Linked DNA regions of Homo sapiens: all the other regions are linked to region 3. The links come from fine-mapping of genetic effects on gene expression. A gene starts in region 3. Each other region holds a variant in brackets. All regions are shown on one strand. Distances are between the middles of the regions.

Region 1 (10,387 bases), 66 kb before region 3:
GGTTTTTTTTTTTCTAACTAAATCACTTATGGGAATCAACATTTTTACAAATTGTGTCTTTCCCCCAAAACACAAAACCAGGTAGTTGAGGGAAGTTTATGTTTTTGTAGGTTCCTTTTAATCAAGACTTAGTTGAACCAAGACAAAAAGAAAATAAAAATTGAGAGAGAGAGTGTAAGTTTCATCAGACTGGGTCAAACTCAGAATTTGCTAGATCTCTGGAGGACCTTGCATACTCCCCAAATCCTGTATGTTCATTTTACAGATGAGAGAGCTGAGGCCTAAAGACAGGGAGCTCTTTGTGTGCCAGGAGTCACTCCCTTGCCTTACCCTGCCTCAGTCACTAGAGAGACAGCTTGTGAAAGCCAACTTAGGAGATCAGTAGAGAGCCCCATGGACCCTTTATACCCCGATCATAAAATGTTACAGATCACAAGGCTGATTTCCCTCAGCCAAAACTTTCCTTCTGCGGCCTGACCACCCTATCATTGAATGTGCACATCTTAAAATGAATAAAAGGGAAAAACAAGAGCCTGGGACTTGATGCCTATCTTTCTTGAATATATCATACCTAGCCTTTGGGATTCTAATGGAAATCAATTACAGCACAGAGTACACATTCATTTTGTTTGCCTAAGATGAAAATCTGCAGTCAAACAGAAACTGTTTGAGGATCTGGCTACAACTGTTGTTGCCATGACAACACCTGGCCTAGCATCACTCAGATAGCAGGATGACTTAGTGTATTACCCTAGCTCCTCCTGGTATGCTCCTGTTATACACTGGTTTGATTTTATTATTTCCTGTATGTTTAAGGCATTGCTGTGCTCAATAGCACATTGCTTAAATGCTAAGATTGAATTTGGTAAAAGGGAGAAGCCAGAAAAAAATGTTTTATTCTTTCACAATGACTGAATTGAGAATAGAGTTGGGAATTAGTTGACTGGCATGATATGCCTTGAAATACAAAGGTAAGAATAAGGATAATAGATACTTTTGTGCCTGATCAGCTCCCCTTTATGGGTTCACTATCCCATCTCACAGCTCCTATGAATTTTGGCTGATTGGGCATTTCAGCTGCCCTTCTCCATAGAATTGCCCTGGGACCATGAGAGTTCCCTTGCCTGAAAGGTTTTGTGAAACCTCTGTAGCACTCAGCTGATTGATCCAGGGTTACAAATGCCCAGCCTCTTTTTGCCAAGGTGGAATGACTCTTGGGTGCCATTTGTACTGAAGAGCTCCCTGCAGGATCAGACTGAGGCTGGATTTCTACTGGAAACACACCCTACCTTGTTCCTCTGCCCTGCTCCACTTCTTTCATTCCCTTAGGGGTTTCTCCTGAGAGTCTGCCCTCAATCAATCACTTGCACATGAATCCCCTTCTCAGGCTCTGCTTGTAGGAAACCTGACCTAAGTTAAGACATTCAACATTTCAATTGTCCAGTTAATTGCTTTGTAATAGGAACTTAAGATGTTTATATTCATCATATGTAAAGCTGCTTCAAAGTCTTTCGATGAGATTTCGATATGTCAGTTCTATATTACCAGTTATTCTCTCTGATTTTTAGTATACATAGTGACTTAATTTTTTTTGTTTGTTTAGGTATTGAACTTATCCCTCAAGTAAGGATAGAAGACTTAAAGCAGATGAAGGTAAAATTGCTTGACTATTTTGCAAGCACTCTTGTATTACACATATTGGTGACACCAATATATTTTTGTTTCTCACCAAGTGTAATCATTGTGATTACAAAAAGAAAAAACAAAAAACCTATTTTTGATTCTATTTTTCTCCCAAAGGCTTACTTGAAGCATTTAAAGAAACAGCAGAAGGAGCTAAATTCTTTAAAGAAGAAACATGCAAAGGTACAGTGCTCTACAGCTACTATTTTGTGTTATGTATGGATGAATCATTTGTAGCCAAAAACACTACTTTGAAGCTGATACCAGACCACTTAACAGTAATAACTCATTCTAACTGGTTAACAATGAAATTAAAAAATAGAATCGGTTTGGGAGTGCTTGTCACTTGTTTGTAGTCTGCATTTCTAACAATTCTTTCAAATGCATAACAAAGCTTCATCCATTTAAAAATTGTTTCACTAGGCCGGGCACAGTGGCTCACGCCTGTAATCCCAGCACTTTGGGAGGCCAAGGTGGGTAGAATAGGATGTCAGGAGTTTGAGACCAGCCTGACCAACATGGTAAAACCTGTCTCTACTAAAAATACAAAAATTAGCTGGGTGTGGTGACATACCCCTGTAATCCCAGCTACTCAGGAGGCTGAGGCAGGAGAATCGCTTTAACCCGGGAGGCAGAGGTTGCAGTGAGCTGAGATCGTGCCATTGCATTCCAGTGTAGGTGATAGAGTAAGACTCCATCTCAAAAAAAAAGAAAAATTATTTCACTAATAACATGACTATATAAAATATTGAAGACCAGCTCACAATTCTAGCCACTAGTTACCTAAATTGCCAGGTCACTGTCACATAGTTTGCCATACACACTGGTGCATGGAGGGAGATGCTAGCAATCTGTCAACCTCCCACTCACAGCACCTAGAGAGAGAACACTTGTCACTTTTTCTCCCTTATGTAAATCTTGCCCAGTAGCCTACTTCTGAAATAGATTTATTTTTGCTTTTTACCCATAAGAAGTGGTATTTTGACAGTGATTGTGAAAAATTACAAGAGCTAGTTGCAAATTGTAAGAGAACAGCAGGAGGTGGCCCCAGGAATTCTCCTGTGGGTTGAAAAACGTCATGGCCCTCAAACATCGTCACTTCCAGACTCCCTCACAGGTAAAGAAGAAAAAGGTAGTACCTCTTTCCTTCCTAAGAACATATAATAACCAGCTGCTGCTGGTAGGATAATGTCTGTCCTCTTTTATTAAGGGCAATGAGAGCAAGAGAAACTTAATTTATAATTTATTAATTTGAAAGAACTTCTGAGTTCTTTTAAACTAATCTTGCATTCCTGTTTCTTTATTCTCTGACCCAAGCCTCAAACCAAGGCATGTCCTTCAGAACTTGGCTTGAGTGATGTACCTTTTAATCATTCCACGTATTGAGATGCCGAGAACATTGTCTGGAACCCTGTCCCCTGTCATTTCTTTAAGAGTTTGTGCTAACACTGATTTTTTGAGAAGTCATTTCTTTAAGAGTTTATCCTAACACTGATTTTTTTTAGAAGTTAGGCCTAATCTTATCCTAGTAATGTTCCCTGTATTACAGAACTGTTGGGCTCAATGGATTTGCTGATACAGTCACTTCACTTCAAAGACTGTTTCTAAGTTTCATGAATAATTCCATTCAGTGAAATTCCTTACATTGCTCAATGGGGTTATTGGAGACAGAACAATTTAAAGTAGGGGCTTCAATGTTGTTGGTTATTGACAACAGGCTGAACTATGGAAAGCCAACAGAAAAAGAGTAAGAATGAGAAATAAGAGAGAAAGCACCTTAAATGACTTTAATTATTTGGAATAGAGTGGATGCCCGTATGCTGCAGCACTATCTAACAGATTTTTCTTGCATTTAAATTGGATCTCTTTTATTGAGCAGACACCTCAGTGGCCTTTGGGCTAGTTGGAAACATAAAGATTTTGGCTTCATTTAATATTTTCTTGAGGCATGGCCAGAAAATATGCTGTGGCGGGTGGTAATAATAGCAGCAATAATAGCAGCTAGAATTCCTGCATGCTCAGTAATTCTCAGATGCTGTGCTCAGCACCTTATATGCATTGTCTCATTTAAGACTCTACCCTGTAAGGTAAATTCTATGTGAGTCTCCATTTATATGTGAGGGAATTAGGAATTAGTGAAGTTATCTGATGTCCCAGAGTTAGGAAGCAGCATAGCTGATATTTGAACCAAAATCAAGAGTCCAGAATCCATAGTCTTGCACCATACTCCTGTGTAGGATATGGGATGCTCACTAAGTGGACAAGTTCCCTCATTGGGTCAAATGCAGTGACAGCACATGGGACATTAGGGAAAATCACTATCAACTTTGGGCAGTGTTGATATACTGCTGATTATCAGGACTGTGACTAAGGAAGGATGCCCCTCAATTTTTAGAACTTAACCTACATCAGAGTTGTCCATTAACTCCCTGGAGCCATCATGCCCGGCCCAAGCTAACTTCTAAGATGAAGAATATAATGAATATTTACTTGCCTAATATACACCGATGCCAGCTCTGTTAACATATTGTCTTTAGGCGAGACATGGTGGCTCATGCATGTAATCCCAGCACTTTGGGAGGCCAAGGCAAGCAGATCTCACCTGAAGTCAGGAGTTTAAGACCAGCCTGGCCAACATGGCAAAACCCTGTCTCTAGTAAAAATACAAAAGTTAGCCAGGCATGGTGGCAGGTGCCTGTAATCCCAGCTACTTGGGAGGCTGAGGCAGGAGAATCACTTGAACCCAGGAGGCGGAGGTTGCAGTGAGCTGAGATTGTGCCACTGCACTCCAGCCTGGGTGACAAGAGCAAGACTCTGTCTCAAAAACAAAACAGAACAAACAACAACAACAACAACAAAAACATGTTGTCTTTAAAACCAAAAAATGAAAAACTGTTTAAGGAGAGGGGAACAATGTGGTGAATCTATTACCATTGGACATACTTCATGCCTGATCTCCATATGACGTGTTTATCCTAACACTGATTTTTCTGTCAGTCAACACTTTTAAAGTGGCAATACTAGCTTGTACATATTGATACTTGCTTAAGCACATATTCTTAGGTATTCTCATAACAGTTATATAAAGGAGTACTATAATTATATGAGTTTTGTATCTGTTAGCTTTTGCAGGGTAACAAACCACCCTAAAATGTAGTGACTTAAAACAATGACCATTTATTTGGCTCACAATTTTGTGCATCAGTAGTTGGAGCTGGGTTTAGCTGGATGGTTCTTCTGGTCTCAGCTGTATTCACTCATGAATCTGCTGTTACTACCAGTTTGGTTGGCAGATGGGGGACTGGCTGATTTAGGTCAGCCTCTGTTAAACCACTTCCTCTCTGCTTTATGTGGTCTCCTGTCTTCCAGCAGGCTAGTCCAGGCTTGTTCACATGGCTGGGGTCCTGAGAGACCAAGCAGATCAAGCATAGTTTCTTGTGGCCCCAGCTCAGAACTAACACACCATCACTTCCACCTCATTTTTTGGCCAAAGTAGGTCCTAAGTCTGGCCTTATGAGGTCTCTACCTTTTGACAGGTGACAAAGTTACATCAGAAGTGGGAGTGGATGCAGAAAGGGAAATAACTGTGGCCATTTTTATAGCCTACCGGCTATTCAACAGATTAGCTTATTAATACTTAAAAAAACACAGCTTCATTAAATCATCTAGTTTTTAAGTGGTGGAGTCAGGATTTGAACCAAATTCAGCCCGGCTTGAGAACTCAGACTTGTAACCACTATACTCAGCTGCCTCTGATGTTTCTCACACTAATTTTTCTTCTCTTCACACATCTTTTTCTTTATGGTCTCACTAACAGGTTTTTAAGAGCAATCATGAACCTATCAGGGCACAAATATCTTGGGTTCCTTCAGGACTGGTTTTTCAACATAAGGTCATTGGGCCAAGAGCTGGAGGCTTTACAAAAATATGTATTCTTATGCCT[A/G]TCTGACACTTAGCTATCATCTCTAAGAAAAGAATATAGGAAATACAGAAATACATTTTAGATAAACTCCTCTCCTCTGCATGCTAAATTTTGAGGACTGTTTTTTTAGGAACATTATGTAGCACTTTTTACTATCTTTTGAGCCCTTAGTAGAAACCCCACTAATCGCCTGCAAAGACACTTATCAAGCCTCCTTAAAGAAACAGAGGTTTTATCCTCTTGCCACATAATAGTAAGAATTAATTCCTACATCCTTTCTGTGAAAGGACATCTACAGCTCTTTTATAATAGTTTTCAGCCACCCAACATGGAGCTAAGGCTTACCACCCCAAAGCCTTATGTCATAAAATGACCTGCTGATGAAGAAATATGACCTGGGCTGCACTCTCCCTACTAGTGTGCCCCTGGCCCAAACAGCCCTTGGTAGCTAAGAACAGGGACTATTATTTAGTCTATATCCAGCAACTGTAGGGAGATCTCAGCTCTTACATATCAGCCTAGATCAAGCTTGTCCAACCTGCATGCAGCTCCCAGGCCACATGCAGCTTAGGATGGCTTTGAATGCAGCCCAACACAAATTTGTAGACTTTCTTAAAACATGAGATTTATGCACAGACTTTTTTTTTTTTTTTCTCTCATTGGCTATCATTAGTGTCAGCGTTTTATGTGTGGCCCAAGACAATTCTTTTTCCAATGTGGCCCAAGGAAGCCAAAAGATTTGCCACTGCTGGCCTAGATAAATAATTCTACTTTTTAGACTTAAAGAGAAGCAGAGAATCTATGAACTATATCTCAGCAGTTTAAGAAATAAATGTATGGTCCCAAGGAGAGCTTATTTCCAAACTTGCAGGTTAGCTACCAGATAGAAAGGAACAGTGGGGTGAGTGTGAGGTTCTGCCATTTGCAAATAGGTGTGCAATTTGCTGTTAGGATATTGAGAAGAAAAGATGGGGGTAACGACCATTTGCACCCCAGATGGATATAAAAATGCTCATTAAAATGTCTATTTTTGGAAAATGGCAATGATCAACTGCATTTGACCCTCTGAATGTACTGGCAATCAAACTTCTACTTGTCTCATACTTTCTAGAACCACTTCAATTCGAAATGGAAACTAGGGTAATGGTTTTTCAAGTGTCTATTATATGAGACACAGAAAAAGGAGAATTAATTAACAATAATCCTCCCCCAGCACATGACTCATTGGGATCCAGAGCTGCAGTTACTTTCATTAAGAGACAGGCATGCTTTTCAATTGTCCAATGAGGTCAATTCCTTAGAGCCAAAAATGTAAAACCCAAAGTTGGATACATATCTCCAGTAACGTGTTAGAAGGGGAATTACAATTCAAATGCCTATGGGGTCCAAGCAGGAAGTAGCTGAGGGAAGTTGGACAGGTGTTGACTCCATAAAAGCTGGGAGCACTCATCTCTATCCACAGGCCAAGTCAGTCTGAGCTACCACCATTGGTGCCTGGAGAGTAGATGGGTCAGTCGTGTCCTCTTAAAGGAGAGTCAAAAAATCAGAAAGCTTATCTGAATTTCCTGATCTTTTACTATCGGCGTCTAATTCAACCTCTTTTTGAAACTGCGTAGGAAAAAACAAAACAAAATCCAAAACTAAAAACTACATCTGCAGGCAGGATACATTCCTTAGGCCACCAGTTTGCAGTATCAACATTAAATGAGTCAAATGAAATGCCTGAGAAGCCTACTAAACTCTGGCATTTTTAGTAAAGCTACTGATGGAAAATTTTCTCTTTGCTATGCAAGCAATTTAGCCGACAGCACCAAGACTGTTGTTAAACTCATCAATTTTAATTCATGGTCAGACCTTAGTACCAGACCTATAACTTAGTTTTGCAGTGGAAAGGGGCAGAGACACAGCAGTTGCCCTCAGAGTCCGCCTATTGGTAATCTCAGAGTTACATGCTGAGCAAACATGATTTACTCCAATTTTTCAGCACCCTCTGTGGTGCGATCATTCACGCCCATAGTCACATCAGTCACAAGAATGAATTGCAGCAGCAGTTTTCCCCAAAAGAAGCTGAATTTACTCTTAACTTGGATAAGAAACGTACACAAATTCTTCTGAATGCTATACATGTTTTTCCCCAAAATGTCCCAGTTAAGATTTACTTTAAGTTAACACATTTAATTTTGGTACTCTTGGCTTGAATGAATGAGAAATGTATGTCTCTTCAATAGTGTTTCATGATTTAACTAAGGACCAAAAGAATAAAACCAATAATGGACATTTTTTTTAAGCTAAGATGGACTTAGAGATCATTTCATGCCTCCTTCATTTTACAGCACAATGAGCTGAGACTTGACCAGAGTCACATGGAAATCAGTAATTAGGATCCCCATTTCTTTCTGAAAGGACAAGTGGTGTCTGGGAATCAAGTTATCCCAAAACACTTCAGCAATCACTGCCTACCACACAGGGATGGAGTTTTGAATAAAAAGAGAAACAGAGACAATTTTTCAGGACCAGCTTTCCTGTTACTGACATTAATTATAGTCACTTTAATTCAATATGCTTTCAGTTTTTCAAATTATTTTTGCATATGTTTAGTAACCTTGCATCTCATAAGCAACTCATGAATTCGGTTAGGCAAAGGTACCTAACTCAGTTTTCTTTTCTTTTCTTTTCTTTTTTTTTTTTTTTTTTTTGAGATGGAGTCTTGCTCTGTCATGCAGTGGCATGATCTCGACTCACTGCAACCTATGCCTCCCGGGTTCAAGCAATTCTCGTCCCTCAGCCTCCAGAGTAGCTGGGATTACAGGAGTGCACCACCATGCCCGGCTAATTTTTGTATTTTTAGTAGAGTTGGGTTTTTGCCATGTTAGCCAGGCTAGTCTCGAACTCCTGACCTCAGGTGATTTATGCGCCTCAGCCTCCCAAAGTCCTGGGATTACAGGCATGGGCTACTGTGCCCAGCCCTAACTCAGTTTTCTAATAAAGACATTGAGGCCTGGGAAGATTTATATATGTTACACAAGGGCAGTTGTTTAATTATTGGCTGAGCTGGGACCAGAATCTAAGTCCTCTTGCTATTTTCCTATGCTGACTTTTTATTCATGCGATAAATACTTATTGAGCATATACTTTGTACCAGGCTTTGTGCCATGTACTGGTAAAGAGAAAAGACCTGCCCTGCTCTTGTAGAGCATATTACATAGAGTTGAATCCATCATAAACAACTTTGTGGTACAAAGAGCCCTATTCCTCATATCTAATTGGATTAATAAGGTTCACCAAAATATTTTCTTAGGAAAAAAATCTGTGTCAATTTACATCCAAGCCTCAAAGTCTCTACTTGTCCTGTTCTGCACTAAAATATTTAAAGAAATAGCCTTCACCCTCCTTTCAATGATATTTGCAAGATAATATAGGACTGTGGCACTTCTGATATATTTTGAGACCTGCAGAAAGCCCCTTATTTATTTAATTTTTTGCCCAGGAAAAATTAACACATGGGTTAGCCAACCATAATGATTTCTAAATCTTAGAAAGAAGACTAGGAGGAGGGCATTTTAGTAGGTACCAAAGTATTACAAGAGTAGTTAAATACATTCAGGGATACATCAACATGTTCCTCTATTCCTGGGGCAGTAGATCAAGCATGGAGGAAACATTTATTGATTTAATTAGTCTGATTGATATCCCTATCTCAAGTCACTCTCTGTGTGTTATCATGGGTATTGAATAGTATAGATAGGTTTGTATGTCACTGTGTTTTGAATAAGCTGTAACACACATTTGATACATTAGATTCACTTTTAATCCTAACAACCCTATGAAGTAAATGTCACTATCCCAATTATAAAGATGAGCATACTCTGGAAAGGTAAGTGACTCACCCCAGCACTGAAAAACCCATGTCCTTAACCCAGTGCCACATTGCAGAAGCTCTGGAGGAAATGTGTTTATAGCACAAAGGTGCACACACATTGGTAATATGGCTAGATTTATGGGGCATTCCAATTACAAATTAAGCCCAGATCCACAGCAAGCCCACCTAGCCTTTGTTCCCACTGTAAGTTCCTATGTTGGGAATCTCCCTATCCAGCATCACCCTTCTCCACTCCTTCTCCTAAAGACAAGAATGCTGAGGCCTTGTGCATGAATGCGTTTCTAAAGAATTTATATATAAATGAATTGTAGATCAAGTCCTGTGTTAAATCTCTTAGCTGGGAAATTAAGGAAGTCTTGGTAAAGACTTAAAAATTCCTTCCCCATTTATATTTTATGAAACCGTTAAAAGAAGTTCATGAATTAGATTTGCATAAAGTCAAGCCTACCTTAGAAAGAAAATAAATTTGCTTTTAAATTAAGGCACTATTTTCTTCAATAAGTGAAAGGAAATATGACGGTGAGAGGGGTTATATAACCTGAACAACATGTACACCCATTCCAGTCATGAATAGCATCCCATTTTTCTGGTTCTCAAGAGTAAGGTTAGGCTATAACATCAAGTGTCATTTAGAGTTGGAAATTTCTGATTGTACTGATTTCCTCTGTGCTTGGGAGGCTGAGCAGCTAAAGAAATCTGATTTCATATAAGTCATTGGCTGTAGCTAAATGCCTTTTTCATTGTCCAGGAAGAAATAATGTTTATATTGAAATACCTACTTTCCAAAGCATTGCAGCCCCAATTTCAATGGTTACGTGAAGCAGATGGGAAAATGTTTTAAATATCTGTAAAACAGAAGGCCATAGCTCCTGAACACTTTATCCTCATAAACTGCTTCTAGA
Region 2 (10,387 bases), 37 kb after region 3:
GTGATAATAGAACACAAAAGAAAACAATGGTTCAGAATGACCACTTGAAGTGAAAAAATTTTTAAAGGTAAATAGTACAGTCTCCAGGGTATGAATTCTCTCTTAATTCTCTTCACACCTCTCTGAACTTCCTCTTCCAACCTTTTTTTTCTGGCTCTACCTCTGCCGCCTGCCTCTTAAATATTGGGGTTCCCTAGGGTTCTGGTTTCCTCTCTCACATCTTCTCTTCTTAGATTCTCTTACTGGATACTGTTTTTCTTTCTATGCTTAGTTCAGACCTTGCTCCTCCATTCAAAGCCTGTATTTCCAACTAGTGTATATTTCTAAATGGATGACCACAAGTACTTCCAAACTCAGCATCCCTCTCTCTGCTCCAAAAGCTGACCCCTTTCCTATCAGTCCTGTTCTAGTGAATGACACCAACATCAATCCAAGAAAATCATCCTTGACTCTTGTCTCTATCTCACCCCAAGTCTTCCTGGTTAGAGTTAAAAAAAAAAACTATCTCTGTGGCTTCAACACCCACAATAGTGCTTGGCCCATGATAGGTTTTCAAAATCAAAATTGTTGCATAAATTGATGAACCTCAATCATAAGAAGTGAAAGAGTCCTTGGAGAATGAAGAACAAGTGCATTAATATATTATAAAGATCAGGATTCAGCAGGGAGGTCTGACCCAGAGACAAGATTCCCCCTGCCACACATGTTATTATGGTAATTTCCAAACATATAGCAAAGCTGAAAGAATTATAGAGTGAACATCCCTATCTGCATGAGTAGATTCTATAATTATTAATGTTTTGCTGTGTGGGCTTTATCACACACCTATCTCTCTATCCATCCATCTATTCATCTAATTTTTGATGCATTTCAAACTGAATTACTGACAGCAGTACACCTCACTCCTAATTTAGCATTAACTGGAGTTCAATGTGTTTTTTTAACAGTTTAAAAATTTACACAGTGTGAAATGTACACACTTTAGGTTTATCATGTGATGAGTTTTGACCTCCCAGTACTATCAAGATCTGGGTATTGCCATCGCTAGGGTAGGATGAGAAGGTCCTTGGGATATGAGTGGTAGTGAAACCCTTGAAGGGCCATAGCATGAGAAAAGAAGATGGTCAAATATGAAATACTGGGCACCTAGGGTGATCGAAATTGAGGCATTACAGGAGACCGAAGAGAAAGACATCAAGAAATCAGAGAAACAACGGAGAATAAATTGGGAAAGCCAAGGTAGGGATAGCAGCAGCTAGGACACAACAGGGAGATGAAACCAGGTAAGAACCGGGAGTTGCTGTTGTGCTCAGCAATGAGGGCATCCCTAGTAGCCTCTAGTTTCAGGTTGAGTCAGTGGTGGAATACAGAGAGCAGTCAGGTAGATTTCAGTCAGAGTGCTTTTCAAGAAATGAGATGTATTTTAATATAGATAGAAGAAATCCAGCATTTACAAACGTGGTGAATATGATAATGATGACAATGATAATTATTACTATTCTCTACAGTGGGTTGAATATCTCCCAGAATTCACATCCATCCAAAGTGCAGAATGTGATCTTATTTGGAAGAGTCTTTGCAGGTCTAATTAGTGAAGGTGAGGTCATATTGGATTGGGGACAGGCCCTAAATTGCATGACTGATATAAAAATAGGAGAGGACACACAGACACATAGATAAGAAGACCATGTGAAGGCAAAGCAGAGACTGGAGGGATGAGTTTACAAGCCAAGCAACACTGAGGATTGCCACAACCACCAGAAACCAGGAGAAACGTATATAAAACTTCTCCCTCAGAGCTTCCAGAAGGAATCAACACTACCAAAATCTTGATTTTGGACCTCTGGACTCTTGAATCATGAGAATACATTTCATGCAGAGAGAAGAAAATGCCACTCAATTGGTAGCAATTTGTTATAGCAGTCCTAGGAAATGAATACACTCACTGAGCTCTTACTACCTGCCAGGTAACACTTTAAACACTTTACATGTATCTCATTTGACAGCTCCCAAGAAACTAACGAGGTAGGAAATATTATTATCTCCATTTTACAGAGAAGTAAGCCAAAACACAGAAGTGGTTAGGCCACTTTGCCAAGGATACAGAGCTAGTAACTGGAAGAGCCAGGATTCGGGAATTTAACCACCACTCTGCTGCTCTGAAGAGCAAAGTTACAGGCTGAAAGAAGGGAGTTCCCAGAGTGGTAGATGTTGAAGAAAGAGGAGAGAGTGAGGATAACTGATGACAGGGTTTTTAAAGCATCCCTTCAGGAGGGATGGGATGGGATCCAAGGTCTTGTTACTTAAAGCATCATCTTCATCAATAGCAGCAGCAGCAGTGTCACCTGGGAGCTTGTTAGATTTTCAGAACCTCAAGCCCCACCCCAGACCTACTAAAGTCAGTTTCCACTTTAACAAGAGCCACAGGCTGTTGGTATACACATTATAGCTTGAATCATAGATCACAGTTCAGTCAAGAAACAGAAGAGGGAGGAGGTCACATGAACAGGTGGGGATAAGGGGGCATTTGTTTGCACAGAGTCTAATCTCTTTAGCATACTGACAAAAGCCTTAACATTTTCACCACACCCCATCTTCCTACTGCTGGCGCAAACACACGAGTCCACCTGAATGGTTTTTAAAGCCCTCTGTAATCTGGTGCCTTTTCGTGTCGCCAATTTTATTCCTCATGGCTTTCTGCACACACTAAAACCATTCCTAGGGACCAGGGCTGTTCCTAGAATGTAGAATATCCAGGGCTAAAACCCAGAAAGTTCTGGGCAAATCAGAAAGAGGTGGTTATCTTATGGTCCATTCCCAACTCTGAGTTTTTTTGATGATTTTTCTTGCATATTCAACTCTTAGGTATACATCAAGGGCTTTATCAAATCTAACATCCTCCAGAATTCTCAGGAGCCCACGTTGATCACTCTCTTTTTTTTTTTAATTTATTATTATTATACTTTAAGTTTTAGGGTACATGTGCACAATGTGCAGGTTAGTTACATATGTATACATGTGCCATGCTGGTGCGCTGCACCCTCTTTTCCAAATTCAGAGAATTTGGCATGCACTCAATCCTGAACTGTTTTCTGGTGCTGATTTTCCATCTCTAGCTAGAGATGACATTCCTTGGGGACAACAACTCTGCTTTCTGATTGCAGAGCCTTACTGTGTTCCTTAAGAGTTGGGCAAACAAACAGCAGAAACTCAGAAAACAAATGCTACTAGATTTATTTTATACTGACACACATACATAATAGTATACCAGGTGACAGAAGACACATTGAAGCTCTTTCTGAAAACATCTGAAGCACACTGAAGATAGCTGTTGCTAGAATCAAAATTGGAACACAGATGAAATGAAAATAACATTTTGGAAATTATTAATGTGATTTTTTTTCATTTCCTTGTTCATGATATTCTCACTAATTGGCTTAAGGCCAGTGATTTGGACCAGTGGTGGTACGATTTGAATTGGAAGGGATTAGATTATTCCCAAAGAAATGCTAGAGAAGCTGGTTTAGCAGAGAGGTGATATTCACAATTTCTTATCAAGAATCAACCCCAGAGGACTCAGATCATAGAATTTCACATGTAGTATGAAAAAAAGGGCCTTGTAGTTGTGATACGTGGTCCATAATCCATGGTGCCCTATTATAAGAGGAGTCGATAATGCACAGAAGTAAAAATCCTACAGTCCACCCCTTGTAGTCTGGGATAATTTGCAGAAGGAGAGAAAGAGGAGTGATGTTGACTATGTCAGGTCCCGGCCTCCTTATGATATATCACTTTTTTTCACTCCAAGCAGATGGTGGTGGGCTTTGGAAATATCTGTGTTGCATACATCCCCATACAAATAAGGGAGAGGAGAAGCCCCACAAGCATGTGTTCAGAGGTAATATTCAAAATATTCAATAACCAGATTAACGTAGGCCAATTGGAACCTAGATAGAAAGTCAAGCAAAGTCCTAGAGTTACCCTGGGAAGGATTACCATTTTTAATGAGGTGAGGAGGGTCTTGGGAAGGGGCTGGAGTGATGGGGGATAGCCTAAGGACTTAAAGCAGTGGCTCTCAACCAACTAGCATGAAAATCTTGCAATATTTTAAAAACAGGTGTAGACATGCTGGTAAAACTGATTGAACACCAGCCTTGGCCATACCCCGTGTGAAAGGAAAATAAAAACTCAGGACGCCAATTCATTCTGCCAAGAGGAAAAATTGAACTAAACGCTGAGTCCTGCAAGAAGCTACCTTCTGTTTTGTTCCTAATTAGACAGCTACAGGTCATAGGTAAATACCTCCATAGGTAGTGACTCTATGTTCACATCATATTCTGTAAAGTGCCGATTTGCTGAGCATGAGATCAATACATAATTGACAGTTCTCCTACCTGCTCCTTTTCTCTTGCAACAAGTGGATGACCATACCCTCCCTCTTTCCCCTCCAGCTCACTTTTCCCCTTTCCCTCAAACTAACCTTTGGAGAAAGGCACAGACCACAGACAGTTTCTATGAATCCATGTTTTTCATTTCTTCTTCTTCTGGACATGTCCTTAACCTTGGTAAAATAAACTTCTAAATTGATTGACACCTGTCTCAGATACTGTTTCGTTTTACACCAGCATGTAAAATGTACTCCATGGAGACACGGCGCTATAGTGTGGGTGGAAGTGAGCTTGTGGCAATGCTACTGTCTTCCATGGCCTGTGTGGGATGTGCAGGGGTTCGGAAGTTCCTCCAAATCTCAGTGAGGGAATGGGGAAGGGTCTGGCACAAGCCTGTGATTGGGACAAGGAGGCAGCCTGTAGGGCACCTTTTCACCCGTGAGTGAAGAGGCTGCAACTGTGATGTACAGCAGAGGTGAGCCCCTGGACAGCCCAGCCACCAGTAGGACCAGTCAATCTTGCTACCTGGTCACCAGTCCAGGTAGCAGGAGAGTCCAATGAAAGCAAGGCAGGGAGGAGAAAGGAACAAGAAGATGCTTCTTATCTCCTTCACCCTGAGGTCCCACGAGCCATGCTTGTCTTTCCTCCCACACTCCATCTTGGGAATAAGTGAAGGTGGAGAGGAGAGGAGGGAGTAGGTGGTGGTTAAATCTGAAAGACTGGGTTTATAAAGGTATCATTTATACCTCATAATAATGTAGTTGACTTTGATAGACAATGTTCAAATCATTCAAGCCAACTAAATTTAATGCATTGAATTAAAATAGATATTTTTAAAAAGAATCTAGCCAGTAGGACTCTGTGAAGAAGTCTGGGTTAGTTTTAGGAAGCATAGAAACCATAATTGTGGTGTGTGTGTGTGTGTGTGTGTGTGTGTGTTTATTTCCAAAACTAGGGTGTAAGTAAATTTGCAACCCCAATACACAGAGAGTAGAGGAGGAACAAACGTTCCAGTTTTGTTTGCCTATAAATTTAAGAAACCTGAATGGTTAAGGAGGTGAATGTATCAGCATTTTGCTATTGGCAGTTTTAAATTTCAGTATATCTAGTGTGGGTTTCTCTTTGCTGGCAGGAAAAATGCCCAAACCCCTCAAAATCTGGCATCCTAATAACCATCTCCCTGACAAAATGTGAGATGAGCAATTGAAACTCGACACTTGGAAGTGAGGCCTGTTCTGCTGCTGTAGGAGTATAAGTGCTTTTGCATGATACTTTAATCATCCAAGTACATAAAAGGGACAATTTTCTAAAAGAACATAATTGCACACAACATTTGTCCAAATAAATCTGCAAGTAGATAATGAGAACTCAAGTAATGAGTACAATAAAGCACTGTAGGCAGATCTTAAAAGCAAATCACATAGACGCTAAGCTGAGCCTTACTTTGGGTAGAATTGTGCAACTGGGCTGCTTAGGAAACCACCTTCGTCTCACTAATGCAGTTAGGCTAAGAGAACTACCACTAGTATGTTGTCCGCCCCCTAAAAGGAGAAAATGTAGCTTGTTACACAAGGACCACACAAGGAACTTTAGTTTAGAACTCAGACAAAGCTGCAATTTAAACATGAGATCCTATCCATCTCTCACGTGTCCTGGCCAGGAATCAGGGTTCCCACAAAAGAATGGTGGAGGGTTGGGGGCTAGTGAGAGTGGGCAAAAGAGAGTCTATCCACAGGGCAGCTACAGGTTTAAAGATAGAATGTAAAAACCCTTGCTCTGTAAACTGCATGCACTCTAAAGAATTCTGTGTCTGCTCTAGGGTCTTGGCTAATGCAAAAGGGGGCTACTTGTGTGCCTAGTTTCTGGGTGCTTCTTTGTAAGGCAATGGCACTCAGTGTACAATGTATGTAGCATCAGCCTCACCTGAGAGCCTGTTAGAAATGCAGCTTCCTGGGTACCACGTAGCCTGAGTGAACCAGAATCTCTGGGGTTGGGGCCCAGGAATCTGTTTCTTGTCAAGCTTTCCAGTGGGTTCTGATGCTCAGTAAAGTTAGAGAACGTTATGGAAAAAGCAGATAACAGTGGCCAGAAAAAGAAGTCTTCAGGCATAAAGATGCAGATGGTGGCATTTGGAGGTGAAACTAATGATCACTGAAATAGGAAGTTGCAGGAAGATCTGGGCAGGGCACCAACGGCATTTGCTGTGGTACAACTCACCCTCCTTATACCA[C/T]TTCCCTTATCATGATGTGTGAATCCAGGCACAGTGTTGCCAGACCCTTTGATTTTTCAAGGAAGACAGGAATCTGACATTTTATATGACATCTTCCAAGTTTTGATTTGTGGCAATCAATTTATAGTAAAAAGAAAAAGAGATCACAAAGACCACTTGTGTGTGTCTCTTTTCCATAAACTTATTGGACTTAGCGGGTCATGGGTTTGAATTCCGGCCAATGAATTTGTCAAAGTCAGTCACTCACTGCTCACTGGCCCCTAAGTAATTCATTTATCAAATGTTGGCCCTAGGCCAAGGAAAGGTCATGATGATTCTACACAACACTTAATTACAAGGGCAGAGGAAATGCCTTCTGACTTAGCATCTACCTTGTCCCTGGTATACTTCTGAAGGTTTTACACACATTACATTATTCATTCCTAAGCCACTCTGTGAGATACTATTTATTTTCCTCTTTCAAATCCCAAACACCACATTCTCCCTTCTTAACACAAATTAGTGACTCGTTAGATATTACTTATGCCATAGATAATAATTGAATGATTTACTTTTAGTTGATAAAAGATAATTTATCTAGTCTTTTGAGAGGACAGAAAGCATTCATTCTTTCAAACCTGAGCAATTCTCGGTCATTTTTCCTAACTTTAAAAAATTTTTAAAATTTTTTAGTTTTTTTTTTTTTTGGCGACAGGGTCTCACTTTATCACTCAGGCTGGAGTGTAGTGGTATGATCTTGGCTCACTGCAGCCTTAAACTCTAGGGCCCAAGCAGTCCTCCTGCCTCAGCCTCCAGGGTGCTAGGACTACAGACAAATGCCACCATATCCAGCTAATTTTTTAGTTTTCTGGTAGAGATGAGATGGGACTTCAATATGTTTCCCAGGTTGGTCTTGAACTACTGGGCTCAAGCAATCCTCTTGTCTCAGCCTCCCAAAGTGCTGAGATTACAGATGTGAGCCACCACGCCCTGCCAACTTTTTAATTTTTAAATAATGATAAATCCACAGGAAGTTGCAACGTGCACCCGTCTCTCCCTAGTATTCGCATCTTACACGGCTACAGTACAATATCAACACTTGTAAATTGATTAGGTCTAATTTATAGAACGTATTCAAATTTCATCAGTTACAAATGAACTCATTGTGTGTGTAGTGTATATAAGTATACTCTGAAATTGTATCATGTGTTGCCAACTAGTCAGCTAACCAAGGGAAGGCTAGTTACCCGGTGAGTTACTACGGTGGGCAACTAGAGCTTGATCCTGCTGAAGAAGTCTGGGAGACTGTGTAGAACAGTGCAAAAGTCATTGTGGTTTTTGCCACTAAAAGTAATGGCAATTACTTTTGCACCAACCTATTATAACCACCACCAAAATCAAGATACCCAACTGTACCATCAGCACAGGACTTCCTGGTGCTGTTCTTTACAGACACATTCCCACAGCCCCAAAACCCTGCCAACCACTCATCTGCTGTGCATTTCTATAATTATGTTATTTCATGAGTGTGTGTGTGTGTGTATATATATAAATATATGGAATCATATAGTGTGTATCCTTTTGAGATTGGTGTTTTCTCACTCAGTATAACTTCCCTGAGGTTCACCCAAGTTCTCGTGTGTATCAATTGTTTGTTTTTATTGTTAAGTGGTATTCCATGACATGGATATATTAATACTATTTGTTTAATCATTCGCCCTTTGAAGGACATTTAGGTAGTTTCCACTTTGGAACTATTATAAAGAAAACTGCTATAAACATTTGTGTACATGTTTCTGTGGGAAAATAAGTTTCCATTTCTCTGGATAAATGCCTCAGAGTGCAAGTGATGGTCGTATGGTAAGTCCATTTTTAATTTTGAAAAAGAACTGCCAAAGTATTTTCTTGAGTGGCTGTGCCATTTTAAGTTCCTATGAGCAGTGTATGAATAAGTGTTGTTATCACTATTTTTCATTTTAGTCATTCTTAAATGTGTGCAGTGATAGCTCATTGTAGTTTTAATGTGCATTTCTCAAAGGCCAATGATGTTGAACATCTTCAAACAGGAAGAGAACCCAATATCTCTTGTGTGGCAGACAGTATTTTCCAAAAATGCCAACAATAATTTTGCCTATCCCATGAGCTCTTCTTACAATATGACTTAATTTTTCTCACACTGAGGAGGACTCTAAACCCCTGCCCCCTGAATCTGGAAGGGCTTGTGACCATGGTGAAAGTAATGTTATTTGATTCTGAGGCTAGGTTATAAAAATGCCATGCACTTCCACCTCGTTTTCTTGGGACGCACTCTTGGGACCCAGTTGCCATGCCATGAGGAAGCTCAAGCCACATGGGGAGGCCACCTATTTTGTAGGTGATCTGGTGGCAGCTCCAGCTAGCCTGCCTGGACTGACTACCTGACATGTGAGTGAGGATGACTTCCAGATAACTCTGGCCCCAGGCATTATCTAACCACAAGTCAGAGCAGCACTGTTTTGCTGAGCTATAAGAGACAATACTAAAATGACTGTTGACTTAAGACTCTAAATGTTGAGATGCTTCGTTATAACAGCAATAGATAATTGAAAAAGTCTTCTCCACTATATAATGTTGTACACTAATAGACTCATATAATAACACACTCTAAGCCTTTTCTTGGAGTAGCCACACTCCATTTCTGCTCTCTTTTAAAAGAAAAGTTTCCTTTTCCTACAGATACTGGAGAAACCACTGGAGTCAATATGATGCACTGTTCTGAACATGAATGAGTAAACTCTGGACAAAATGGCCAAGAGGCACAAGATCCACTCAATATGCTCTTGCTTCCTCTGCCTGGAATGCTCCTGTTTCTGGCAGCCACAGGGTCCAGTCCCCCATGTCTCTGCTGTAACGCCACCACATCAGAGGGATCTTCTGACCAGCCTCCATAAGACAGTACCCATCACTTCCATCACTCCCCATTCTCCTTACCATGCCTAAATTAATCCTAGGAAACTTAGTATTTATCACCCCTTGTTTGGTGGGGATTTTGTTTGTTTATTTATCTATTTGTTTATTATCACATTCCCAGTCCCCAAATAAGCTTACTAGAGGAAGTGATTTTGCTTTGTTCATCCCTAGGATTTAGAACTGTCTGTTACACGTAGCAGACATTCAGCAAATGTTCAGTAAATGAATGAGAGAACAAACCAATAAGGACTAAAAGCATCTACAATGTGTCTATTTATGTGAGCTCTTTACAGGGTGCACAGGGATGCAGGAGGTGTTTGAGACAAAGGTTCTGCTCTTGAGAATGACAACTCAATGATTTAAAAATCTTGCACATTGAGGGGAGGGGAGATCTTTAAGTAATTTGATTAAACAATGACTTCTTAGTCTCATTTCTGATTTTGATACTGGATATGATCTTACAGCAAGGAAGCCTGTACCATAAATTTCTAGAAACAGGGAAAGAAAGTCTTTCTTGAAATTGCTCTGCTAGACCAGTTTAATGCTTTGCAAATTGCATTCTGACACCGTGGAGCCTTGCGTAGGTGCTTTCCGGAGTCAGGCCAGGGAGGATTCTTGACCTTTTCTCATAGCTGTCCACTCATATGGAAGATTAAGAAAAAATGCATACACAGTCTTCTTCTACCTGTATCCACATCCCTTTGCAATGTGACTTGGCATCTTCTCCTATCAAGAGGCAGAGTTTATATCCCTACTCCTTGAGTCTGGTCTTGAATATTTAGTAAATATAATATAAGCACAGGATTTGAAAGGGCCTACACATCAGGGCTTGCCTCCTTTG
Region 3 (10,387 bases):
ACCCTGCCTCCCCTACTAGTCTCCAGGCTTTTCTCTGGACAGGGGAGGGACCCGAGAAGCCCGCGGCCAGTGATCGCCAGGGTCTGTCTCGTCGCCCATCCTCCCCGCCCCAGAGCAAGGTCGGCAGAGGCTTCCCGGGGCATAAGAACTTCAAAGAAAGTCTCAGAGGAGCCACGCTACCAGGAACTTTCGTCGCCCTTTAAAATTGTCAGATAGACAAGTAAAAACAGTAACTAACTAAGGGAACAATGGACTCTTGTGACATGTGTAACTCTTCCAGGTACCCCAACACTAAAGACCCCGTGGTTCCTGTCGCCATGGCCTGAACGTACTCAACTCCAGCCCCGGGGCTGACCTCTCTCCCTGAGCTTTGGAGCGGGTTTGGACCTAGCCGTTGCAAGTAGGCATGACTTTTATCACCCATCGCTATACCCAGAGCAGCTGCTCGAATGTGCCAAGGAGCCCAACTCGGGTGCAAAGCGCCGACGTCTTTCCCAGGTTGAGGACATCGCGAGCCAGAGGTGCAGGCAGCGAGGCGCCCAACAGTAGAATGCATCTTCCTTCCCGCGGGCAGAAGCCGTCAAGTCTGGAGTCCGCAGCGGGCGCGCGGGCCAGCCCAGGGATACTGAGCCATGAGCAACCAGGCCCACCTACCGCCGCGCCATCCAAAGGTAACACCACAGACCACGGGCCATGTGTCCTGAGCAGCGCACACTTCCTGCACGTTCAGATATTACATGTTAATAATGAAATTCCGAGCACCCCACCCCCCATCAGCCAAAGGATATTGCTCAGATTACTTCCCTACTCAGATCACTCAGACTTGGGGCATGTAGTTCTGGAGGTATCCTTTAGGAAAGCTATGTCGAAGACCAGAGAATTGAAGCCACTCCTTCCACATGTTGTCGCTACTAGAGTAATAAAGTCATAACTAACATATCGCTTCTTATACTCCCATCCCATTTGCCTTTCCAATACACTCTCCCTTTCCCACTACCTTGTTACTAAAACATCTTGCTATGCTTTTACAACGAGAGAGAGAGAAAAAACAAAGTCCTAAACTTACAACATCAGAGCACCCCAGGGAATTCCAGGACTCCAGCTACAATGCAAGCAAAGCTTCAATAGGAGACAGTGGGCTCTGGGCTCCACTCTCACCCTCCTTCCCAAAGGCCATTAATATAAATTTTCCTTAGTTCCAAACACATCTTCAAGTTAATATGCAGATAACTTCAGATAGACAATTAAAAGAGTAATTTGCCGGTCACAGTGGCTTACACCTGTAATCCCAGCACTTTGGGAGGCCGAGGCAGGCGGATCACGAGGTCAGGAGTTCGAGACCAGCCTGGCCAAAATAGTGAAACCCTGTCTCTACTAAAAATACAAAAAATTAGCCGGGCATGGTGGCAAATGCCTGTAGTTCCAGCTACTCAGGAGGCTGAGGCAGGAGAATAGCTTGAATCCAGGAGGCAGATGTTGCAGTGAGCGAAGATTGCACCGCTGCACTCTAGCCTGGGCGACAGAGTGAGACTCTCAAAAAAAAACAAAACAAAACAAAACAAAAAAAAAACAGAGAGAGAGAGAGAGTAGTAACCAAGGGAACAATGGACTCCTGTGCCATCTCAGAGATTTTGAGGGTACTGCATTATCACAGAATTCAGGTAGCAAAATATGTTAAATGAGACACAGCTAGTCTAACCTTAGGCCTATTGTGACAGATGTCATTTCTTGGAGAACAGACTCATTAAAGATTTTTTAAAATCCTCAAATGAGTTTTAATTCAACCTTACAGAAAGGTGCCCTGCCCAGAAGTTAACAAGGTTTTCCTCCCTCCCGAGATAGCAGAGTGAGTTGTGTATCACTGACCAAAAATGTAAGACTGACCAGAACAGTTAACTAATCACGGATTCAAAAGACAAAAATGATTTATTTGCTACTGAAATTTTGAGGAATGATTACCTGGCCCCTCACCATTTACTTATTTAGGGTTTGCTATAAGGATGCAGTTCTCTATATTGCCCCATGCTGAAGGCAATTCTTCTAAATGAACTCATAAATGGTATTTTTTTCAGGACTTAGTGTGAACATAGCCAATAAAAAGGCCGTTATTCTGGTGGTTTGTTTCCTCCACTGGTTACCGTTATTGCAGAAATAACCATTGTTTCATTAGAGTAGATGCAGGAGACACCAAAGAAGCACTAGGATGAGGAAAATTACACCAAGGGCATGCAGACTGAGTGCATTGGAGCCTAAACTCAATTTTCTGATTCTTTCCAAATATTCTAGGGCTTAGCAATGTATGTGCGAAATATTCTTGTGCATACATTGCTCATGCGCACACTTATTTTTGTACTCTTTGCTCTGGATCTAAACCCTTGTGGGATAGAAACTGAAAAATAATTCTTGTGCATACATTTATTTTTCAGTTTCTGTCCCACAAGAGTTTAGATCCTAGAAAGGGTTGCGAAGGTCTTTGAAGGCAATGACTAAATGAATTAATTGTTCTATGATAAGCTGAACACAAGAAAAGTTTTGGTGAGTAGAAAGTCTGGCTTAACAGCTGCATGCATCTTGTTTGTTTAAATTATTTCTGCTTCTGTTATTCGGGTGTGCGTCCGTTGTCTGTGTGTGGGTTGCAGAGGGATGGCTTGGTGGCTGTGGGAACAACAGAGCAAGGAGTACATTTTTACACTTTACTGTAAAGTGAACTGAAACCTCAATAAACCAAATTTCAGCTGCAACAAAGCCCAGCCTTTTCCTTTTGAAGCTATAAATACGCTTTTCTTATTAGTATTGTTCACTAATTTTCATAGTTTTGTTTCTTGATTCTACAAATACAAGTCAATTGCTTGCACAACCAAGTATGAAAAGATGCCCCTAACAACTTAAAAAGTTTAATTTTATTTAGAATAAATTTTGCATAGGCCATTCTTTTGCATATGCCATATGTGGGTAAATTATCAAATACGGAAATGAAATAGGGGTTCTATAGTACATAAGGCATTGTTGATTTACGGCCTAATTTGCTTTTTATTGCAAATGGATAAATATGGATGGATGAAGAGTTACATCTTTGCATTGATTCCCTATTCAATAGATATTTCTTCCATCCGTATCCTTCCTTCCACCCTACATCAGTTTGTCAACTTCTTTCAAGACTCACCTTCTCCAAGAGACCTTTTTTCATCAATTTCAACCACTCTCCCACCTGGGATGCCTGTCTTACTTTTTTTTCCCCCTGAACATTTATGCAGACACTGTGCTAGGCTAACTGGAATCTTTATGTAAATTCTTCTCATCCAAATTGAAAGTTCTATGCAAGGGCCTCTTCTTGCCCTTTTATAAAACAGCAACCACTCAATGGCATGAGATTCATAAAGGCTAATTCAGTAAGTATCCATATGAATTGAAAAACAGCCTTTGAAGGACCTAGAAGATCTAGAGGAGATCCCAAATCCAGTGTGTTTAGGTCACACTGCACCCTAACAGTTTCTACTGACCACCAGCAGCAATAATAAAAATTGACACAGTTACCACCCACACAGGTGTACATATTTATGTCAATTTCTCCTACCATCTTTTAGACTTGAGAAATGAAAAGTAGAGCAAATTCTGGGGAACATTGTTAATATATTAAAATGCAATTTAATGGCAAATTTTGCTCCTTGATCACTTCTTTGCTTATTTTAGAGAACCAAAGAGTTTTTTTCCAGAATGATTAGAAAGATATTTAATTAATGTAGGTGAAAGTTGTAGGTATAATGACCTAACTCCTATTGCAATGTATCACAGTGGATAAGATGATAAATTAATGGGCATTTGTTAGCCATGTTTAAGATTAAATATTAAAAAAGTCATTAAACTGATTGTGCTTTGAAAATAATCCCCCCAGAAAAAAAGAGTTAAAATTGCTTTCTTTCTTCTTTCAACCCATTTGAGTACTCTAGGGTACACTCTCCAGTGTCAACAAAGAGATCATTTATATCAGGTATAATTTTCAAAGGAACAACCATCTCATTTGTAAATCAACTACTACATTTTAAGATCAATGACCAATGCTACTACTCACCTAATCTTTTATTATTAAGGCAGATAATCATGAATTAATTCAGTTGATCTTTTAACAACTTATATAGTGAAGATATCTGCAATAACATACTGCAAGAGAAATTGTCAAAATCTTTTATAGGTGTCTCTCCTACTTGTGTAATGATAAATATCTTTTGGTTTTCAAAGCATCAAGCATACTGGAAGTAGTAAGTATTCGGTTAATGTTTATGGATCTATTTGTACTTTGTTTATTTATACTCATTGGCCCATTTGGTTTAACTAGCCATCCCCTGAGTTATTTTCCCAATTTTTCAGATGAGAACAAATAAAATCTTCAGAAGGTCACAAAAATAATAAGTAGTGAATCCTGGACTGAAATCTACTCATTTCTGTCCTCATAAAATACTGGAGAGAGAGAGAGAGAGAGAGAATAAATACTTTATTACATGTCTCATTGTTTTCCAGTTTTACAGTACTACAGGAAAATAAGTGTTTAATAATAATTGCTAACATGAAAAAATGTAACACATACAAATGTTATCTCTTCCACTTTCAACTGATGAGAACTGACGTTTTATCAATCTTCTGTATAAAATCATTTCTGTTAAGTTCTGTAAAATTTGCATCAATTCTTCTATATATAATCATCTTTGTAAAGTTCTTGAGAAATGTTTGGATGAAATACTGAACTACAAACATAAAAGTCAAGATGTCAAAATATAATGTCAATTTTAATATTACTTTATACTTTGAATTGCTAGTGATCTAATGATTGATATAGGAATATGTTTGAAAGCCAAAAACATTATATAGATACTTTGTGGCAGATATGTCAGAATGTGATTATACTTAAAACAGCATTCTATAAATTTGAAGAATGTGAATTAATGATAGAGATTTCAGATTTCAGATTATTATTTGATATTGAATATAGATTTTTATGGAAGTCAAAATATGGAGTAAAAATATTATATAAGGAGAAATGAAGATAATCTCACAGAGTTAAAGCATGTGATTTTTGTATTTTAATTCTAACTGACCATGTGACATTTGGGAAGGTCATTTAATTTATTTGAGCCTCAGTTTTGGGGTATGTAAAACCACAGTAACTCATATCTTTCCTTGCCTACCCTCTAAGATTGGGGAGAATCAAATTAGATAATGCAGGTGAAATACTTTGCAATTTTCCCTTTAATATGACATTGTTTTATAACATTATATTACTGATGCAACATTTATTTGCATTATGAAATATCTTCTAAGGAATAAAATATTTGGACATCACTACAATTGATGAGGACTGCATGTGTATTTTTGAAAGCTGTATTCTGATTTACAGAGCAAAAATAAAAAATAAGCAAGCTACCAAATATGTAAATACAGGAATTAGCCCAGTAGTATTTGTTCTTCTGTTCCACTACAGGCTTTAGAGTAATATCAGTGTGTGTTTTTCTTACATAACTATGTGACATTACTTAGGGCATAATTCTAAAATTTCTGTCCTAGGAGACACTAGATAACTCTCAAAAACTTCTGATTTGCTTGCATCCCTTTTTGGCAGAGTGGTCACAGTATAATGCGGGAGGGTAGGTGACCCCAGAGTTCAGAGTCCTCATGCACCCGGGAGCAAAATTCACAGGAAAATAAGCCCACATGGAGCTACTGCATTGTCTGATGGCCTCGTTCGAGGAGGCGTCAATTTAACTTTAAACCCATGAGCTCATTGAGAGCAGGGGAGAGAAGGGGATGTCTCCAAATTCAGGAAACTGTTGCCATAGCATTTTCCCTTCTCTATTCCTGCATAGCCCTCCTCCCCCGAATCAGCAACAATTTTTGCTCCACCGTTTTCTTTCGGGAACCAGATGCGTTTTCAGAAGACAGTACTCCAGTGATAAGGTATCTACACCACTTAATAACTGTACCTGGTAAGGAGATTTAATAAGGCTGAGGGTGGTATTAAGTTTCTCAGAACAGACTCATCTTTGCGGATGCAGTTGCAGAACAGGAAACAGACCCAGGGAGAAGTTTAGTCCCCCCAGATCTCATTGGCCCTCCGCACAAGCCAAGCCACAGCCACTCCTGCCACACAATCGGATTGCTTTCAGCACTCGCAGCCGTGGACCGCCGTGCGGTCCTTTCCTCCGCAGTGAGCCGATTTGCTCTGCCAGCAGCTGTCGGTGCCGCGCTCGACACCGAGTCCTAGCTAGGCGCTCACAGAATACGCGCTCCCTCCCTCCCCCTTCTCTGTCCCCCGCCTCTCGCTCACCCCGGCCCACTCCAGCGGCGACTTTGAGGGATTCCCTCTCTGGCGGCCTCTGCAGCAGCACAGCCGGCCTCATTCGGGGCACTGCGAGTATGGATCTCCAAGGAAGAGGGGTCCCCAGCATCGACAGACTTCGAGTTCTCCTGATGTTGTTCCGTGAGTAGCGATTTGGCGACTGGGAGAGAGGACGGGCACTCTTTGCAGAGAACAGAGCCGGCAAAGTAAAGTCAATTAGCTTGAGATAAAAAATATGGCCCTTAATGTTTTGCGGTGTTTTTTCTTTTTTTCTTTTAGGGGAGGAGGGAGGGCCTTCCTCGCCGGTGGCAGGGAATTCCCCTGAGAGCCATACACCTCTGTGGCATATTCCAGACAGAGCCTAGACAGGCCAGCTTCGTGAGGTCAGAGCATTGGCAAGAAATATTTACTTTAAAATCCCAAGATGTAGAAAACAGCCAGCTATATTACAAACAAAGTCAGGATTTTTAATTTTTTTAACTGTATTTTCATTATAAATTAACAGCGAAGGAATGAGGCTTGTTAGACCCGGGTTAGAGAAACGGCTCGTAGAGCGCACAGCTGCTGGCAGAGAACTTTGTCACTCCAAAGCCTGCAGAGCACTGTCTCCCCACCCTAGCGCCCGAGACGCGTGGGCTGAGCCCTGAACTGATGGAATTGTTTTGTTTGTTCCGCAGATACAATGGCTCAAATCATGGCAGAACAAGAAGTGGAAAATCTCTCAGGCCTTTCCACTAACCCTGAAAAAGATATATTTGTGGTGCGGGAAAATGGGACGACGTGTCTCATGGCAGAGTTTGCAGCCAAATTTATTGTACCTTATGATGTGTGGGCCAGCAACTACGTAGATGTAAGGAATCTTTCCCCCCCCTCAGCTTGCTCCTAGGGCTCCAGGGCGAAGGGCACCCTTCCTCAAGGCTCTTCGAAGACCTGGGTTGCCCGCCTTCTTTCCCACACCCCGGCAGGCTGCTCCCGAATGCTGCATGGGGATTCCAGCTTGTAATGCCTTCTGTTCCCCTGCCTGCTTTGAAAGTAAACCCCCTTCTCTCCGCTTCCCTATCGGGGCTGCACGTAGAGCATCTAACCGCATGTTCCCGGAACCTGGGATGCGCGCGCGCAAAGGAGCGCCCAAGCGTGCAACCCAGAGTTTGGACGCGCCGCCCTTTACAGCCCCCGCCCCGGGGCCGGGCGAGCTGAGGGGGCGCGGGGCGTCTGTGTTCCCAGCTGATCACAGAACAGGCCGATATCGCATTGACCCGGGGAGCTGAGGTGAAGGGCCGCTGTGGCCACAGCCAGTCGGAGCTGCAAGTGTTCTGGGTGGATCGCGCATATGCACTCAAAATGCTCTTTGTAAAGGTAACTCCGAGCCCAGCGGGCAGAGGGGCCGCAGGCTCCGCGTGGGTGTGGGAAGTGGCGGCCCCTAGGTTTAAGAACCCAGACGCTGCGGGGACGATTGAAGCGCACCTCCCCGGCTCAACAGGAAAGCCACAACATGTCCAAGGGACCTGAGGCGACTTGGAGGCTGAGCAAAGTGCAGTTTGTCTACGACTCCTCGGAGAAAACCCACTTCAAAGACGCAGTCAGTGGTGAGTGGAGGCTGGCATGGCTGGGGAGGGAGCCTGGGAACTCGCAGAACAGGCTTGGAGAGAGAATTCCTCAAGGTTTTGGAAACCGTCCCACGCTTTGAGGTCCCAGGCCAAGTCTTCCCTCGGCTTGCTCTTTAGGGCGGAAGAGGCGGGAGCGCCCATGAGTCTTCTGGGTCTCAGGCCTTGTAGATCCGCCAGGAACCGCAGGCGTGGGGACCCAAACGTCACCCGTGGCCTGATCCTAGATAAGAAGTCCCTTGAAGGCCTGTCGTTCCCTGGTGCTTCAAAACGACCTCTTATGATTTGGCCTTTGAAGGACCACGGAGAAGGGCAAAGCTGCATTTTAATTTTCTTCCGCATCCTGGTTTTGTTTCTTATGCGCTAAAACTGCAAGGGGGCAGTGCGACTTTCCTTTTCAGTCAGGATGTGATGGCCTTCAGTGTCTTTTTGCGCATGGCAGCATGGCTCGCACGGGATATTCAGTCATCGACTGCAGCTACCTGACAGTGGATTCTGCACCATGTATAATTTACTAGCGTTTCTGGCCCATCCCTCCGACAACTCAGCCAGATCCTCCTCGGCAAAACGAGCGTTCATCCCCCAAATAACAATATTCCTATCTGCAGACACCGTCAAAGACCACATTTAAATTTATTTTATTCTTTATAAGTTGTCTATTTCACTCATAATGAGGCCCTTCATCACCCAGGCACCTGAGTTGGGAAAGGATTTTTATTGAATACATAAAAATACATGTGTCATCTTTCCCTTTTCACCCCTTTTTGTTATCACAGTAAAAGGAGGATTTTTTCTTTTTCATCAAAGTTTAGATGCAAGATGTCCCCCAGTTAAATTAGACCAAAAAGGAAAAAGGAAAAATCAAACTTAGGTCAGAAAAAGAGCAATGGGAGGCAGACCTTCAGAGGGGATGTATGTGTGTAAGGACAAGCATCCAGAGGACCAGCAATCTGTCCGGCTTTGTTGAGGAAGATGTTTTATTCTTTGCCAGGCCCGTGTGAAATGTGGAAAACCAAGTCACTGTTCCTTCTGTGTCTTTGGAATCTCCATTATTAGGGATTTTTTTTTTCTTTTTTGAAGTGCGGTCTCACTCTGTCCACCAGGGTGGAGGGCAGTGGCACCACCATAGATCACCACAGCCTGGAGTAAGCTACTGGGCTCAAGAGATTCTCCCACCCCAGTTTCCCCAGTAGCTGGGACTACAGGCATGTGTCACCATGCCAGACTAATTTTGTAAATGTATGTGTGTGTGTGTGTATTTGTAGAGACAGAGTCTCACTATGTTGCTCAGGCTGGTCTAGAAATCTTGGGCTCAAACGATCCTCCCACCTTGACCTCTGAAAGTTTTGGGATTACAGGCAGGATCCACCATGCCCAGCCTAGGTTTTATACAGTAACAAGGGTTGGGTTTTTAAGTATCATTCTCCTCTTCAAAAAAGGAGTTCCAAATTAATATTGAAAGAGCCCTGGCTCTCAAGATAATGGGTGTGTTTGTCCTTCATCACCACTTGATGCCATTTGTAGAGCCCTAGCCCTGGCAAGGGAACAGAGAGGACAGGAGGGGTGTGGTGTCTGGAACTGAGAGGCAATAGCCAGCTCTCTGGCACATTAGGTTAGGAACAATGAGGGTTCTAACTATTGCTCTGGGCTCTTGCTGTAGCTGGGAAGCACACAGCCAACTCGCACCACCTCTCTGCCTTGGTCACCCCCGCTGGGAAGTCCTATGAGTGTCAAGCTCAACAAACCATTTCACTGGCCTCTAGTGATCCGCAGAAGACGGTCACCATGATCCTGTCTGCGGTCCACATCCAACCTTTTGACATTATCTCAGATTTTGTCTTCAGTGAAGGTAAGTTGTTGGGGGATGGAGGGGAAGAAGACCTAGTTTATTTCAGGAAGGATGAGAGAGGGACCTACCAGGGCCCCAGGATGTTACCACTTGGATTTCCTCTAGGTTGAAATGACACTGCCTGCCTCTTTAATAATTTTCAAAGACTAAAAAAGCAGTAAGCTGAATGTATGAACTTATCTCAGTAGTTCTTTCTTTCTCCCTCCCAGCCTCCTCCCCGTTTACCTTCACTTTAGTCCTTTCTTCTCAGTCTCCCTTTGTTTCCTCCTTCTTCTTTTCTTTACCTTCTTCCCTCCCTTCTTATATTTCATCTTTCCCTCTCTCCCCATCTTCTTTCCTTTGCCAAAAGATGAACCTTCATAGGGAGAAAGATTTAAAAAGTCACTTTGGAAAAAACTGTAATTTTGATGCAAACTTCCCAAGGAGAAAGCAGCTAAAGTATTTAAGACGTTAGTTAATCTAGAGAGCTACAGATGGGGGAAAGGGCCTTTGCCTTTCTGGGCCCGTTTCTTCTTGTTCTCTCGGATACTTCTAGTTGAAGATTCTGCTGCTGTGAGTCCGAGTTTCTGTGCATCCAGAAGGCAGAGGGGGTGGGTGCGTATGCAC

The links. PIP is the estimated chance that this variant, and not a neighbour inherited with it, causes the effect.
Region 1: its variant is fine-mapped to the expression of LAMP5 in whole blood (TOPMed, PIP above 0.99).
Region 2: its variant is fine-mapped to the expression of LAMP5 in whole blood (TOPMed, PIP 0.94).

The regions. Positions count from the first base shown.
Region 1 is chr20:9,442,378-9,452,764 of GRCh38, forward strand. PLCB4 (phospholipase C beta 4) reads left to right here. Exons shown (of 40, transcript NM_001377142.1): 31 at 1,604-1,653; 32 at 1,801-1,866. Among named protein-coding and RNA genes, the nearest start is that of LAMP5, 67 kb to the right of the region's middle. The variant A/G (reference allele first, on the strand shown) is at 5,627.
Region 2 is chr20:9,545,435-9,555,821 of GRCh38, forward strand. All of the region lies in intron 7 of PAK5 (p21 (RAC1) activated kinase 5), which reads right to left. Among named protein-coding and RNA genes, the nearest start is that of LAMP5-AS1, 36 kb to the left of the region's middle. The variant C/T (reference allele first, on the strand shown) is at 6,619.
Region 3 is chr20:9,508,448-9,518,834 of GRCh38, forward strand. It overlaps LAMP5 (lysosomal associated membrane protein family member 5), which reads left to right and starts at 6,143. Exons shown (of 6, transcript NM_012261.4): 1 at 6,143-6,469; 2 at 7,006-7,178; 3 at 7,553-7,684; 4 at 7,809-7,914; 5 at 9,593-9,781. The coding sequence starts at 6,406. It overlaps LAMP5-AS1 (LAMP5 antisense RNA 1), which reads right to left and starts at 6,551. Exons shown (of 5, transcript NR_109957.1): 1 at 6,317-6,551; 2 at 433-718. RefSeq lists enhancers at 2,710-2,759, 7,078-7,662, 10,206-10,387.